Regions from separate parts of the Homo sapiens genome. Here all the other regions are linked to region 2. Evidence: fine-mapped expression QTL. A gene starts in region 2. Each other region holds a variant in brackets. All regions are shown on one strand. Distances are from middle to middle.

The links.
Region 1: its variant is fine-mapped to the expression of KCNQ2 in left ventricle (GTEx, PIP 0.96).
Region 3: its variant is fine-mapped to the expression of KCNQ2 in left ventricle (GTEx, PIP above 0.99).

What each region holds. Positions count from the first base shown.
Region 1 is chr20:62,636,107-62,640,893 of GRCh38, forward strand. LOC124904949 (a long non-coding RNA gene) reads right to left here. Exons shown (of 2, transcript XR_007067711.1): 2 at 1,539-4,787. Among named protein-coding and RNA genes, the nearest start is that of SLCO4A1, 4.0 kb to the right of the region's middle. RefSeq lists an enhancer at 1-390. The variant G/A (reference allele first, on the strand shown) is at 2,610.
Region 2 is chr20:63,469,774-63,474,560 of GRCh38, forward strand. KCNQ2 (potassium voltage-gated channel subfamily Q member 2) reads right to left here and starts at 2,882. Exons shown (of 17, transcript NM_172107.4): 1 at 2,395-2,882. The coding sequence starts at 2,690. RefSeq lists an enhancer at 1-711.
Region 3 is chr20:63,442,859-63,447,090 of GRCh38, forward strand. KCNQ2 (potassium voltage-gated channel subfamily Q member 2) reads right to left here. Exons shown (of 17, transcript NM_172107.4): 2 at 3,889-3,979; 3 at 2,380-2,506; 4 at 1,801-1,976. Among named protein-coding and RNA genes, the nearest start is that of KCNQ2-AS1, 3.5 kb to the right of the region's middle. The variant C/CCCCCAAAGGG (reference allele first, on the strand shown) is at 2,645.

The DNA of each region.
Region 1 (4,787 bases), 830 kb before region 2:
ACACAGACGGCCACAGAAGCCAGGGTGTGGCCGGGGCTAGGCCTGCCCTGAAGGCTGCCGAGGCGGAGTAGGTGACGGTGGGGTGAGGACTTGAGAAGCAGGGGACACTTTTTCCAGAGGAAGCTGCTCTCCCAGGGGTGCCTCAGTGGAGCAGAGCGAATGGAGCGAACAGACTGAATTCACGGCATTTTAGGACGGGGGACCTGGTGTGGGGGCTTGGATGGAAAGACAGGGAACAGGATAAGCCCTGGGAAGGAAAGGGGGATGTGGCTGCCTCTTCAGGGGCCGGGGTGGGCGTCTGCCCAGGAGGGCAGCGGAGGAGGGGAGGGCAGTGCGGGTAGGGAGGGGAGGTGGCCCCACAGACGCTGGGAGTGCCCAGGTTTTCTGACAACCTCAGCCGCTTGGCTAGAGCGTCTGGAAGGATTTGCGGGGAGCATGTCTGGGGGAATCGAGGCTCTGTGACGGGTGACGGCACAAAGGGGCCCAGCAGGCCTGGCTCCAGCGCCAGCCAGAGGAGTGGCCGGGGGATGAGAGAGCCCAGGAAGGCACCCCAGGGAGGTGCAGCACGCGCCGCCGACTCAGCCCTGGGCCCCGTACGCAGGAGCCACCCCCTTCCTGCAGATGGAACAAACCATCTGGGGTCAGGAAATTGAGCTGGCTCTTCTAATCTCCTCTAGAGCTCCACGTTCCTGGGGTTTAAGTAGAACATCCAGGCCTCTCAGTGAGCCAGAAAAGCCCATTTCTACCTTGTGATGGGGAAGATGAAAATTCTGTGAGTCTCCTACGTGGGAAAGGGTCCGGCTTGCCTGCAGGATGCTGACTGCGTGGCACCTAAACACAGAAAGTTCTGGAAGATTCCTTGCCCCTGTGTAGGCTTAAATATCGTTCACTAGCTCTGACAGTCCACCCAGGCCCTGGGCAACATGTTCCAGGGCAGAGCAGGTTGGCACAAGATGGACATGGTCATGGTGCCTTCCACGGTCACGGGACCCTGGGGACAGCAGACACCGCCCAAGAAGGAATCTCAGGGACCTGTGGGCATCCCTGTTTTTGTGCCTCTGGGTTCTATCACCTGACTTCCCCCAACAATGAGCTCTGCACATGGCCAGGGATCTCTGCACACGTCCAGGGAGCTCTGCACATGGTCAGCCAGCTCTGCACACGGCCAGGAACTCTGCACACCATCAGGGATCTCTGCACACAGCCAGGAACTCTGCACACGGTCAGCGAGCTCTGCACACAGCCAGGGAGCTCTGCACATTGTCAGGGAACTTTGAAAGGGCTGGGCAGGTCACCTTCCTTTCACCCCCAAGTGAGTGAGGCTGCAATGGGGTGTCCATGTCCTTGGACAAAGCTCCAAAGCTTCTAGCTTCTCTGAAGCTCACAGAGGTGTCAGCTTGGTGGGGAAGGTGCCAAGGCAGGGCCCTGGAGATGGGGACAGGGACTGCCCACTTCCATTTGCCAAAGTCTCAGCAAATGAAACATGAGGGAATGAATGCTCAAAGAGGGCTGCAAACAATCGCCAACAAGGTAAATGATTACATTTAACGCTTTTACTGTAAACACTCTCAATGCAATATAATCTTGCTAGTCATGCTGGGTGGGCCGGGATGAGAGTTAGCAGAAGACCTGATGGGTCTGTGCCTCGGCGGGTCCGGACTGCATGCACAGTTGTATTGGAAGCTAAGATAATCACTCACCTAACACGAGGCCCTTCCAGAATGTGAGGTCTCAGCCAAGTGAACCCTGTGAACACCTCCACCCCCAGACCCGCGGGGAGGCTCAGGAGCCAGGCAGACCGAGGCAGTTCCAGAAGCCCTTGGGCTGGCAGACGTTTGCCTCTTTGTAAGTAAGAGTGTATGCAGAAGACCTCACAAGCAGATCACCAGTGAAATTCAGATGACCCTTCTAGAGAGGCTGTGGGCAGCCAAGGCCCCAGGTGTGGACAGGGCTGCTGCTCTCCAGGTGCTGGGGGCCCCAGCATGTCTCTTCCTACAGCTCCATGTGCCTTTGCCACGGAGCCACCGGCATTCAGTGGCCTCTTCCCCACTTGGCTGCTATGTGTCCCCTGGAACTCAGGGCACTCCAGGTGTCCTCAGGTCATGTCTCAGAGCTCAGGGCCATCTCGCCAGGCAGGGAAGTCCAGATTCCAATTTTTTCTACCCCACACCTAATCTCTAACAGCAGGCTCTGAACACACAGGAATCAGTTGGTGGCTTCTAAAGAGAACATGATACCGTCATGTAGCTGCCTGTCCAGACGCTGAAGCCTGTGCTTTCACCGGACCCTAGTGCTTGTGAATGACGACCTCTGTTCTCCTGGGTCAAAACTTCCTTCACCACCGTCAAGAAGGCCACCCTTTGTCGGCGGGTTAAATGCAGTGTTATTTACATATGGTTTATCTGGGCATCTATAATCCCAGGGCGAGAGCCCACCATCCACCAGCATTTTGGAAGAACGCCTGAGACCTGAGACCTGAGACCTGGTGCAATGGAATCAGATTCCCTGGTAGCTGCTTTTAATGGTGACAGATTCTCTGAAACAGAAAAAGATTGAATTGAGTCTGTCTCCCTGGAGTCGTCCTGCTCTGGGAGATGCAGAGGGAGGGC[G/A]GCAGGAGGGAGGACAGTGGGAGGCCTCTGTTGGTCAATTGCTAGGCTGCTGTCACCAGATGGTGGATGGCGTTTGTACAGCACTGGCCAAGGGCCCAGCTCAGCAGGGCCAGAGCCTCAGGTCATGTCGCAGGTGAGCAAAGCAGCGTGGATGGAAGACGAAGATCTTCGTCCCACGGAGGGCTTGCTGTGCGCCCCGCAGGACGCAGATCACCGGGAAGAGCAGGAAGCAGAAGCGCAGGAAAGCCAATGCTGTGACTGAGGCGTGGCCAGCAAGCCAGGCCCTCCAGCCACACCCTGCTCCAAAGGGGCTCCGACAGGATGGACTGATGATTTCCAAGAGAGAACATGCTTTTTATCTTCTATGGAATTTTGCTACCAAAGAGCCTCCCAGCTACCTGTGCCCTTCCCTAACCTGACAATCTTAATTCCCCCATGAAACTCCTCCATCGCGGACATTTGGACAACTCCAGGCTGAGTTTTTCCTAAGGCCACTCTGGCCTTGTGCGTCTCTTCTTTGCTAAGCTGTGTGCCAGCCGCCAGCCCACATCTGGGTTGTACCATGATCCTAACTCCTCACCTGAACACAGCATTTAACAGACTGAAACGTGCCACTCTGGAGCTGGGGACTTCAAGCCACATTTCGCCTGCAGCCCGATCGCCTTCAATCTTTAGCAAAATCCTCTTTCTCATGCAAAACAGTGCAGTCGTAACTTTTAAAATATTTTTTAGAAACTTTCTCTAGAGCCTCCACCACATGGCCACAGCCTGAGACTTTGAAATAATGAAACAATTAAATGATGTTTTCATCATTTCTGAGACTTGCCCATTATCACGAAGCTGAAATGGCCATTTTTTTATAAGTCAAGGAAGGACAGGCAGTTTCAAATGAGTTGGCTAAGACATACGCCAAATTCATAGAAAATAGAAATGAACTATGACTACAGAATGGAAGCAACCACAGAAATATTAGCAGGATTTTAAGTATTATCCCAATCAAGTACTAATAGCTAAGTGAGGTCATTTTTTGGATACCATTCCTGGTCAAAGCTAGGAATGATGTGTGTTCCAGGCTGGACCCTCCAGGCAGAGGCACCGGGATCCCACGCTGTTTCTGGGTTGGCCATTAACCTGCCCCTTGACCTGACAGCGTTTCTCTCTCTTCTCTCTCTACACTTCTCTTCTGATCTTTAGATCGATTTTCCTCCAAGTGACAATGTCCATAAAGAGAGAGGGAGGTGGAAATACAGGCTGTCACATTTCAGCTCTTTGAGGTGCCTCTAAAGATGATGTCAGAGAACAGTAAGTGGCCCACAAATGTGCAGCATCTGTTCCGAGCCTCCTGAAGCCGCCCGGACAGGCAGCAGTACGACCCTGCAAGGCCACAGGGGAGCCAGGGGGTTCTCGCTTTCTTTTTCTTTTAATTATTTCCTCTCAAAAAAGAAAAAAAAAAAAGAAAAGAAAGAAAAAAAGCCCTGCTGGGATAGAACTTATTGAGTTCAGAATGTTCCAGGGCACATAATCAGGCTGCCCTTGTTCCAAGACACTGCTGTGCTCTGTAGCTGACCCCCGAGTCCTCTAGGGCAAGAGTAAGGACACAGTCGGCTCCCGAAAGCTGGTGCAGATGGACCCCACCACGCAGGGCCTGGAGTTGGGCCAGACCTGCAGACCCCCTTGATGGCCTGCGGCAGGACCCTTCACCTGGGTCAAGGCCTCCTGGTGCTCCTAGGGGCCTCTTGAGGAGCCTGGGCACCAGCATTTGCCTTTGAGGACAGGACTGAGGGCCTGCATTTTGCACGAATGTACCTGAAATGTTTGCTCTGGATTTACCTTTCCAATGGTGCCTATGCAGGAATCCCAAAGAATGCCTGGTGGGGTCTGAGGCGGGTCTCAGGCCGGGAGCCCTCCACAGGCAGCAATATTTGGCTAGAATTTAATGCCATTTTGTTTCTTTTTATCTATTTTTATGGTGACCTCTTTGTGGTAATTGACACTGACTTTTTAAAAAATAAACTTACCCTTTTAATCAAATGTGTGAATTGTTTAAAGGAAAAACATTGTGTAAATAATGTTTTCAGGGGGTAGAATCCAGACGTGAGTTTTGGAAACAGAGTCCAGTCCTGCTTCTGACATTTGAATTGCTTCTCCAGCATCATCACCAGAAGATGGGCTACCTGT
Region 2 (4,787 bases):
CTGCCTAACACGCCACACGGGCCAGTCCATGCCGGGCCAGAGGACATGGGGCCATCAGGCCTCCCAAGTGGAGGTGGGGGCTGCACTCCAAGGATGGGCTGGGCCACGGGGACAGCAGCAAACACCACACCAGGGGTCTGGGAGCCGGGCGGTGAGCTGCACCAGCAGTGCTGAGCCACATCCCCTTTCACAGAGGGCACTGGGCCGGCCTGGAAGAGTGTGATGCCCCCCAGCAGTGGTGTTCACAAAGCCCTGGGTTGAGAAGCAGCTGTGCCGACGTTACCGACGGAAAACTGAGGTTTGCAGAGGTTCTGAGACCAGCCCCCAGTGTCCAACCCGAGGCAGGACCAGAAACCCTGCTCTCCAGCCCCGCCGCTTAGAAAAAATCCCCCTCCCAAAGGGGCCGCCTCCCTGAGTCCAAGCCACCCCTGCCCACAGCAAAGGAGCTGAGGAGAGCCTGGGAGCTCAGGGAGGTTCAGGGAGCTCCGTGCCCACAGCAAAGGAGCTGAGGAGAGGCCTAGTGCAGGCTGGAAGGCGGGGCTGTTCAGACGTTGAGGGTCTCGCCTGAAGCCCCCGCATGCTGCTGCTCTATCTTAGAGGGGGCCCGTCCGGACTGGGGGTGGTCAGGAAGAGACGGCTCAGACCCCACATGTGCAAGTGTCCCCATGCTTTGCCCCAGTTCTGGACTGCTGCTCTCAGGAGGCAGAGACAGGAAGGAGAGACAGAGGGGCTGACCCACGCAGGCCCAGGCAGGGGGCGGCCATGCGGAGAGCTGCTGACCCAACGGGAAACCTCAGGAACAGCCACGCTGGGCCCTTGGATCATGGACTCAAAGCAGAACCAACCCTGGGTCAGACGCAGAGCGGGGCGCTGGCCAGGCTGTCAGGGCAGGAGGGTTGTGGGGGTGGGTTCTATCCTACCCTCCTCCGGGGAGTCACCTTGGGCAGGGACCTGGCTGACCAGTACCGGCCCACCAAGAGCCCCTTTGGCCCCCAGCCAGGTGGGGGCCATCAGGGGAGGCCATTCCTGAGAACACAGAAGCTCATCTGGGGATTCGGGAATGAACCCTGGACTGGAAAAGCTAGACTCACCTCCTGGGGGCCACAGGGCTTCCAGGACCCAGGAGGTCGGAGAAGCTTCTGCTTGGGGAGTCCCAGGCTGGGTGCCCAGGGGCCCTCCACGGAGACACCCTCCCTGTAAGCGGCCTGGCATTTCCCTCTGGGATCTTCTCCCTACCCCAGAACCCTCTCATATCACAGTCCACGGAGGGTCTGCTAAGGGCACACTCAAGGCCACACGCAGGCTGGGGCACACTCGTGGGGCACACACCCCTCTCGGCCCAGGTGGGCGCCCGACCAGCTTGTGACCAGTCTGCCCCTCACTCCCATCCCAAAATGCCTCTCACACAAAATGGCCGGTCCCGGAGCTCAGCGGGTCCCTTGTTCAGCTGGGATGGGAGAGCAAGCGCCCTGGCGCGGGGAGGCTGTGCACACCGGCCGCACAGGCCGCACACGCAGCGGGCCGTGCAATTCCACATGCGAACACCCAGGTGCACACGGACGCAGGCTTCGGCCGCCCCCCGCCAGCCCTGCCCCAGGAGGCAGCCGTTCCCTGAGCCTCGCCCGGGAAGAGGGGACAGCCCCTTCCAGGCCCAGGGCTGGGGGTCCCAGGTCTGCCGCAGCCCCTCCCCCGGGCCTCGCTCTGCCAAGGAGGGGTCCTGAGCCCGGGATGTGCACGGGGGCGGCCGGCGGCTGCAGAGATGGGACAGCGCAGGAGCTGAGCGCAGGAGCTGAGGGGGTTCGCGGGGCCAGGGAGGGGCGTCGGCGCCGAGGGGGCAGGACAGACAGCTGCGCTCAGCCCGGGCTGGGGTGGGGGGGTCATGGGAGGGCCCCTCCCCCATCTCAGGAACCCAGAAGCTCACCCTAGTCTGAGGGAGAGCGGCTCGGGAGGATGGCGGAGGACAGGCCAGACCCCTCCCCCCCGCCCTCGCTTGGTCGGGCGGCCCCAGCCCCGCGGGTCCCCGAGAGTCCCGGAGAGTCCAGACCCAGCGCTGCCGCCGTCCCTCCCCGGCCGGCCCTTTGTTCGGCGCAGAGGCCGCGGGGAGGGGCCTCCCAGGCTGAGGAGGGGGCTGGGGCGGCCGCACGTCTCTGTCCTGCGGGCCTGGAGCCCCCACCCCGACCTGAGCGGCCCCGACCCCGGAATCCTTCCTGCCCGCGCGCTGTACAATCGCTCTCCGGTCTCGGCCCAGCACTCCCGCCGGGGAGCGCCGGCCCCGGACCCAGACCCAGGGGCAGGGAGCCAAACCCGCCGCAGCCAGCCTGGCCGGGGTCGCCGATGGGGTCGCCGATGGGGGTCGCCATGGGGGTCGCCACGGGGGCCCCGCCGGCCACTCACACGTAGGCGTGGTAGATGAACGCCCAGCCGCGCGGCCGCTCCAGCACGTTGTAGAGGAAATTCTGCAGCTTGCGGTAGAAGGCGTTGCGCTTGGGGGGCTTCCCGGCGCCCGCGCCGCCCGCGCGAGGTTTGCTGAGGATGCTGCCGCGCTTGGGGGCCTCGGAGCCGGCGATCAGCAGCGCCCCGTCCCGGGTGGAGTCGGGCGCGCCGGGGTCCAGCCCCACGAAGCCCACCTTCAGCTTCTTCTCCCCGCTCGGGCCGGGGTATACGCCGCCGTTGCGCGACTTCTGCACCATGGTGCCTGGCGGGAGGCGCCCCGGGTCGGGCTCAGGCTCAGCGGGGGCGGAGCGCGGGGGGCGGCGCGGGCCCCAGCCCAGGCCCCCCGGCCGGGAGCCGCATGGCCGAGGCGGCGGTTCCGCACTCCTGCCGGGCTTGGGCCGCGCGCGGAGACGCTGCGGCCACCTCGCTCCGCGCGCACCTCGGCGCCTGGCCCGCGGCCGCGCCGGCTCCGCCCGCCGCCTCGCCCCGCCCCGCGTTAACCCCCGCGACGCCAGTCGAAGGAGAGGGGAGGAGAAGAGAGGGAGGGGAAGGGAGGGGAGAGGGAGGGACGGGGAGGGGAGGGGAGGGGGGAAGGAGAGGAGAGGGGAGGAGAGAAGAGGGAAAGGGAGGGGAGGGGAGGGAGAGGGGACGGGGAGAGGGGAGACAGGAGGGGAGGGGGAGGGGAGGAGAGGGGAATGGGAGGGGAGGAGAGTGGCGGGGACGGGGAGAGGGGAGACAGGAGTGGAGGGGGGAGACAGGAGTGGAGGGGGAGGGGAGGGGGGAGAGGAGGGGGAGTGGGGGAGGGGGAGGGGAGGGCAGGGGGAGAGGAGGGGGAGGCAGAAGGGACCAAGGCCCGCGGGACCAGAGCTCTGGGCTGAGCCTGCCCAATCCCCCGGCCATGTGCACACTGACCCTGCGGTCACCTTTGAGTCCGGTAGTACTAACCAAGTGGACCTGCCTGGTGGCCCCAGCGCTCCTGGGGTCCCAGAGCGGTGCCCAGCCGCCTGAGCAGGACTGGAGTCTTCTCAGCTGGGCCCTGGGAGTGGACGCCTCCGGGAAGGGATGGGGGTAGGGGCTCTCCCCAAGACTCTGTTAGGGCTCAGCCCATGGTGACCTCATGCTCTCGGTGTCAGGGTTGCCCAGGCAGTAGGACCCCCTAGACCCCAGGGTGTGTGCAGGGAGGGTCTGTGGAGGCTGGAGGCACCCTGCAAGGAAAGCAGCCCAGGGGAAAGGGGGTGGCCACAGAGGCCGGGAGGCAAGAAGAGGAGCAAGGGCCATGGGGTGGGGGATGGGAGAGAGTCACTCCTAGAGGGCCTTGAAGCCCCCCAAGGGGCCTGGACTTAGTTATGCAGACCCCAGAAGGGGCCTGTGGCAGGGGCAGGGACTGGAGGGTGGCCCCAGGGCAGCAGACAGGCCAGCAGGAAGCCCAGTGCCACACCTCGGGACAAAGGAGGCAGATCTGTGCCTCCTGGACACAGATGGGACGGTGTTTCCTTGGGGGCAAGTGCGCGGAGGTGGCCTCCCCCCTGCCGGCAGCCATGTGTCCTGGGAGGGGTCCCTCTGGAGCTGCTGCTGGGAGACCAAGGGACCCCTGCGGCTCAGTGCTGCCCGCCCTGTGAGGTGCCCCGCCACTGGGCCTTCCTCTGCACATCCAGGAGGGGTGTCATCTTCGAGTGCGTCTCTGACTACATCCAGCCTGTTTGCACGTTCGCCTGGCACCATGGGTTCTACCCAGAGAAAGGCCCTCTGCTGAATCGCTGGCGCCGTCCTCGCAGGTGACCTGCTCATAAAACAGCCCTAACCCTGGTGCAGAGTGAGCTCTTGAGTTGTGTTTGCCCTTTGGTTTCCAGAGCTAGTGGCCACGGGGCCTGTTTTTGTTGTTGTTGTTTTGTTTTTAACTAGGCTGAATACAGAAGGGTCGGTGCAGGCAGAATGCTAACCTGTACGTTATCCAGGACGTTGGGGATAGACGGCAACTTACACAAGCTTGTGCACATCCAGGGGTACTTTCTGGATCCCCGCCTCCCTGCCTCTGTGCCCACGCATTGGCTGTGATTACCAGCATGAAGTGGGCTTGCCCCAAGCGGCTGCGGTTTCTCTCGATTGTTAAGGGAGGAGGCACCAGCCTGGTGCTTTCAGGGGAGGGAGAGGACTTCAGTATGCAGAAGGAAGAGAGCACCGTGGCATCTCCCTGCACACGCTGGCTGGTGCCGCTGGTCTTTCCCACTCACCAGAAGACCCGAGGGAGCAGCCGTAGCTCAAAATGTAAACCCTGCAGGGCTGGGGCCCCTCATCCTGTGGGGGGAAGCCCCAGACTATCCGGTGCCCCTCGGCAGTGCCCGGGCTACACGTGA
Region 3 (4,232 bases), 27 kb before region 2:
ACCATCACCATCACCATTATCACCACCACCATCACCACCATCACCACCACCATCACCATCACCACCATCACCATCACCACCACCATCACCATCATCACCATCACCACCACCACCACCATCACCACCATTACCATCACCATCACCACCATCACCATCACCACCACCATCACATCACCACCACCATCACCATCATCAGCATCACCATCACCATTATCACCACCACCACCATTATCACCACCATCACCATCACCACCACCACTATCACCACCACCACCATCATCACCACCACCATCACCGGCGCCACCACCATCACATCACCATCACCATCACCACCACCACCACCATCACCACCACCACCATGATCACCACCATCACCATCACCACCATCACATCACCATCGCCACCATCATCACCACCATCACCATCACCATCATCACCACCACCATCACCATCATCACCACCACCACCATCACCATCACCACCATCACCACCACCACCACCATCACCATCATCACCACCATCATCACCACCACCATCACCATCACCACCATCACCATCACCACCATCATCACCATCACCATCACCACCACCATCACCATCACCACCATCACCACCATCATCACCACCACCATCACCATCACCACCACCACGATCACCACCATCACCATCACCACCACCACCACCATGACCATCATGACCATCACCACCACCACCACCATCACTACCACCATCACCACCATCACCCTCACCACCATCACCACCCGCCACCTGCCTCCAGGAGCACTGCAGCCTCGCCAGTCAGCCCACTTTGGGCTCTGTCTCCAGGGATATAGGGGCTGGATGGACCCGTCTCCTGAGGCCAGCAGAGGCTCCACGCCAGGGTCGGTGGCAGGGCTGGCACAGGGGAACCAGGAGGCGCCGCTGGCTTCACCATCTTAGCTACGGCAGCCCATTCCCCTGAGCCTCCTGGCCTGGGCAACAGTGGCTCGCACGGCCAGCCCACCGTGCCCTCCAGGGTCAGTAGCGTCTATTCTGGCGGCCAGCAGGGCTGGAGAATCTTGGGACTGTTGAGACCCTCCCCCAACCTCCCTGAGCCTCCGGGCACAGATGTGAAAAGGGTGCCCACTGCAGTCAGCACTCAACCCCCACAGCGTCCAGGGAGGGAGAGGGGCCACCGGGGGCTGACCCCTGCCCATTCTGCAGACAAAGCCACCACCCTGCCAGGGCTCAAGAGGGAAGAAAATGGGGAGGGGGCCATTTGAGCAAATGAGCCCACCCGTGAGCAAGGTGGAGGGACAGCACAGTCTGGCAGGATGGGGTCTCGGTCACTGGGGGGCCTGGGGCCCCTGGAACTCAGCATGTGTGGCCACAGCCACCCTCTGGGTCCCCCGGACAGCGGCCGCCGCAAGCCGCAGCTTAAACAACCACCAGGCAGGTGACTAGCACTTTGTATTGATCCAGGCACTAAAAACCCAGGAAAGAAGACACCCAACCACAGAGCCAAGGGTTCGCGGCAGGAAGGTGGGGGTGGCAGGGGCCAAAATGGCCTGGCCTGGCCTTTCGAAAAAGCAGCTTTCTGGAGACAGATGACAAAGATGGCCCAAGTCACGAGAAGAAGCACCGAGAAGAAAGGGGAGGGAGGCTCGTTCACACCTGATGGGCTCCAGCCAGAGCCACCACTGACTCCATCCCTCCACCCAGGGCTCTTGAAGCAAACCCCAGGCAGGGGTGGGGCCCGGTCTGGGCCAGGACTCTCGCTGGCTGGGGGCGCCCACCGCCAGCCTTGGGGCCGTGACTCACCTTGCTGTGGGCATAGACCACAGAGCCCAGCAGCTTCCAGGTGCCTCCCCGCCGGTCCATGCGGATCATCCGCAGAATCTGCAGGAAGCGCAGGCTCCGGAGCGCAGATGTGGCAAAGACGTTGCCCTGGGAGCCGGCGGCCAGCACCGCAATGGAGGCGATGAGCACCATGATGTCTACAAAGCGGGCGTGGAGCTGGTGAGCTGCTGGGCCGCTCCCCGCACCCCCTTGGAGAAAACTCCCCACCCCGCGTTCCAGGAGGATGTGCAGAGGGGCGGGAAGGTGTATGCCCAGCGCCTGGTGTGGGCTCTGTCAGGCCCCAGGAAGGACATTACTATCGTCCACCCTGCCTGTGGGGCCCAGGATGGGCAGCCCAGCGCCACATTCCTCTTCCTGACATTTAGGCAGAGTTAACCACAGCCTCTGACTCCAAGTCAGCAGGTGAAAAGAAACTTCCAGAAGGAGCCAGTCCTGCCCAGCCTCTCTGGCCCACGCAGACGCCCCAGCTCCCCCCAGGGCTGAGTCCGTCCCTGGGTGCCTGGCCCTGATTCTAGCAATACCACCCCCACCAGGCCTCACCAATCACACAGAACGGTTTCCGGGCAAACTTGAGCCGCCCCCTCCAGCCACGGTACCGGCAGCAGCAGCCTGCGGCCCAGATCCGCACGAAGTACTCCACGCCAAACACCACGATAGTCACGATTTCCTGCAGGGGAGGAAAGCTGAGGCCACCTTGAGGCCTGGGGGAGGGCCTGGGGGCCCAGCCTGGACACCCACAGGAGCAGTTCTGGCCCAGGGACCAAGCCACAGGGCAGGAGGCCCCCAAAGGAAACTGCAAGCTGAC[C/CCCCCAAAGGG]CCCCCACCCCTCTCCAGCCTCTGGGCAGGAAGGGTTGGGCCCTCTGGAGACCCTGCATCCGGGAACACAGCTGAGCATGAACACCATGGGGCCACCCTCCCCACCTCCCTGTCTGAGCTGGGGACTCTATCTGGGCTAGGGGACCATGTCTGAGCTGGCAGGGCTGCCCTGTCTGAGCTAGGGGGTTCTATCTGGGCTAGGGAACCCTGTCTGAGCTGGGAGGCCCTGTCTGAGCTGGGAGGCCCTGTCTGAGCTGGGGGACCCTGTCTGAGCTGGGGGACCCTGTCTGAGCTGGGAGGCCCTGTCTGAGCTGGGGGACCCTGTCTGAGCTGGGAGGCCCTGTCTGAGCTGGGGGACCCTGTCTGAGCTGGGGGACCCTGTCTGAGCTGGGAGGCCCTGTCTGAGCTGGGGGACCCTGTCTGAGCTGGGGGACCCTGTCTGAGCTGGGAGGCCCTGTCTGAGCTGGGGGACCCTGTCTGAGCTGGGGGACCCTGTCTGAGCTGGGGGACCCTGTCTGAGCTGGTTGGGGAGCTGCCCTGTCCAAGCTGGGGGACTCTATCTGAGTTGGGGGCCCCTGTCTGAGCTGGGGGACCCTGTCTGAGCCAGTGGGGGACCTGCCTTGAGTTGGGGGGTGCACAGCAGGGCTGAGCTGAGGGAAGGCCCCAGGTAACTGCAAAGGGGGCCACAGTCTCCACCCAGACCTTGGGAAGCCCCAGAACAGAGGAGCAGGGCGGGCAGTAGAGGGAGGTGCATTTGGATGGGGACCAGTCTCCTTGAGGGCCCCCCACCCCGTTACCAACAGCAACACAGGAACTGCACTCCCGTTGCCATGGCGCCCACCCTGCCCTGGCACAGGGTTGCTGCAAGCGTCACAGCCCCCACCCCGACGCCCACGTCTGCCGTCTGCTGGGGACGCCCCACATCTCCGGCTCCAGAGATAAAGTGGGGATGGGAAAGGGAGGGTGGCCCACCCAGGGTGGGGGCGATGGAGGCGGGGCTGTCAGCCACTGTGAGGTCACCAGGAGGGGTGAGGTGAGGGCTGAGTTACAGCCAGGGTGGGGCTGGGGCATAGCCCGGGCTGTGGGGCTGGGGGCAGATGGGAACTGACAGGGCACAAAGACATGGCCAGAGCTGGGGCTGGGGGCGTCAGAGGCCCTGTAGTAACAGGAACGGAAGACAGACGCCCAGGCAGCTCCAGCTCCTTCCTGGGCACTTCCAGCCCCCGCCCTCCCTCGGGGCTCACCAGGATGTAGAGGGCCCCCTCCGAGCTCTTCTCATACTCCTTGATGGTGGAAAACACAGACAGCACGAGGCAGGAGAAAACCAGGAGGAACCTGGGGGCAGGGAACGCGCGCTCTCAGACAGGCCGCAGCAGGGCAGCAGCATGGCTGTGTCTCCAGAACTCAGGACCCCACTCCCCACCAGGCCGCAGCAGGGCACCAGCATGGCCGCGTCTCCAGAACGCAGGACCCCACTCCCCACCCACCCCACCAGAGCTCGCTCGGGCCAGAGGGCACCCCCATAGCCACCTCCCGGGACCCTGAACTCCACAGTGGCAGCTGCCCCCTCTATGCGCAGCTGCCCCCT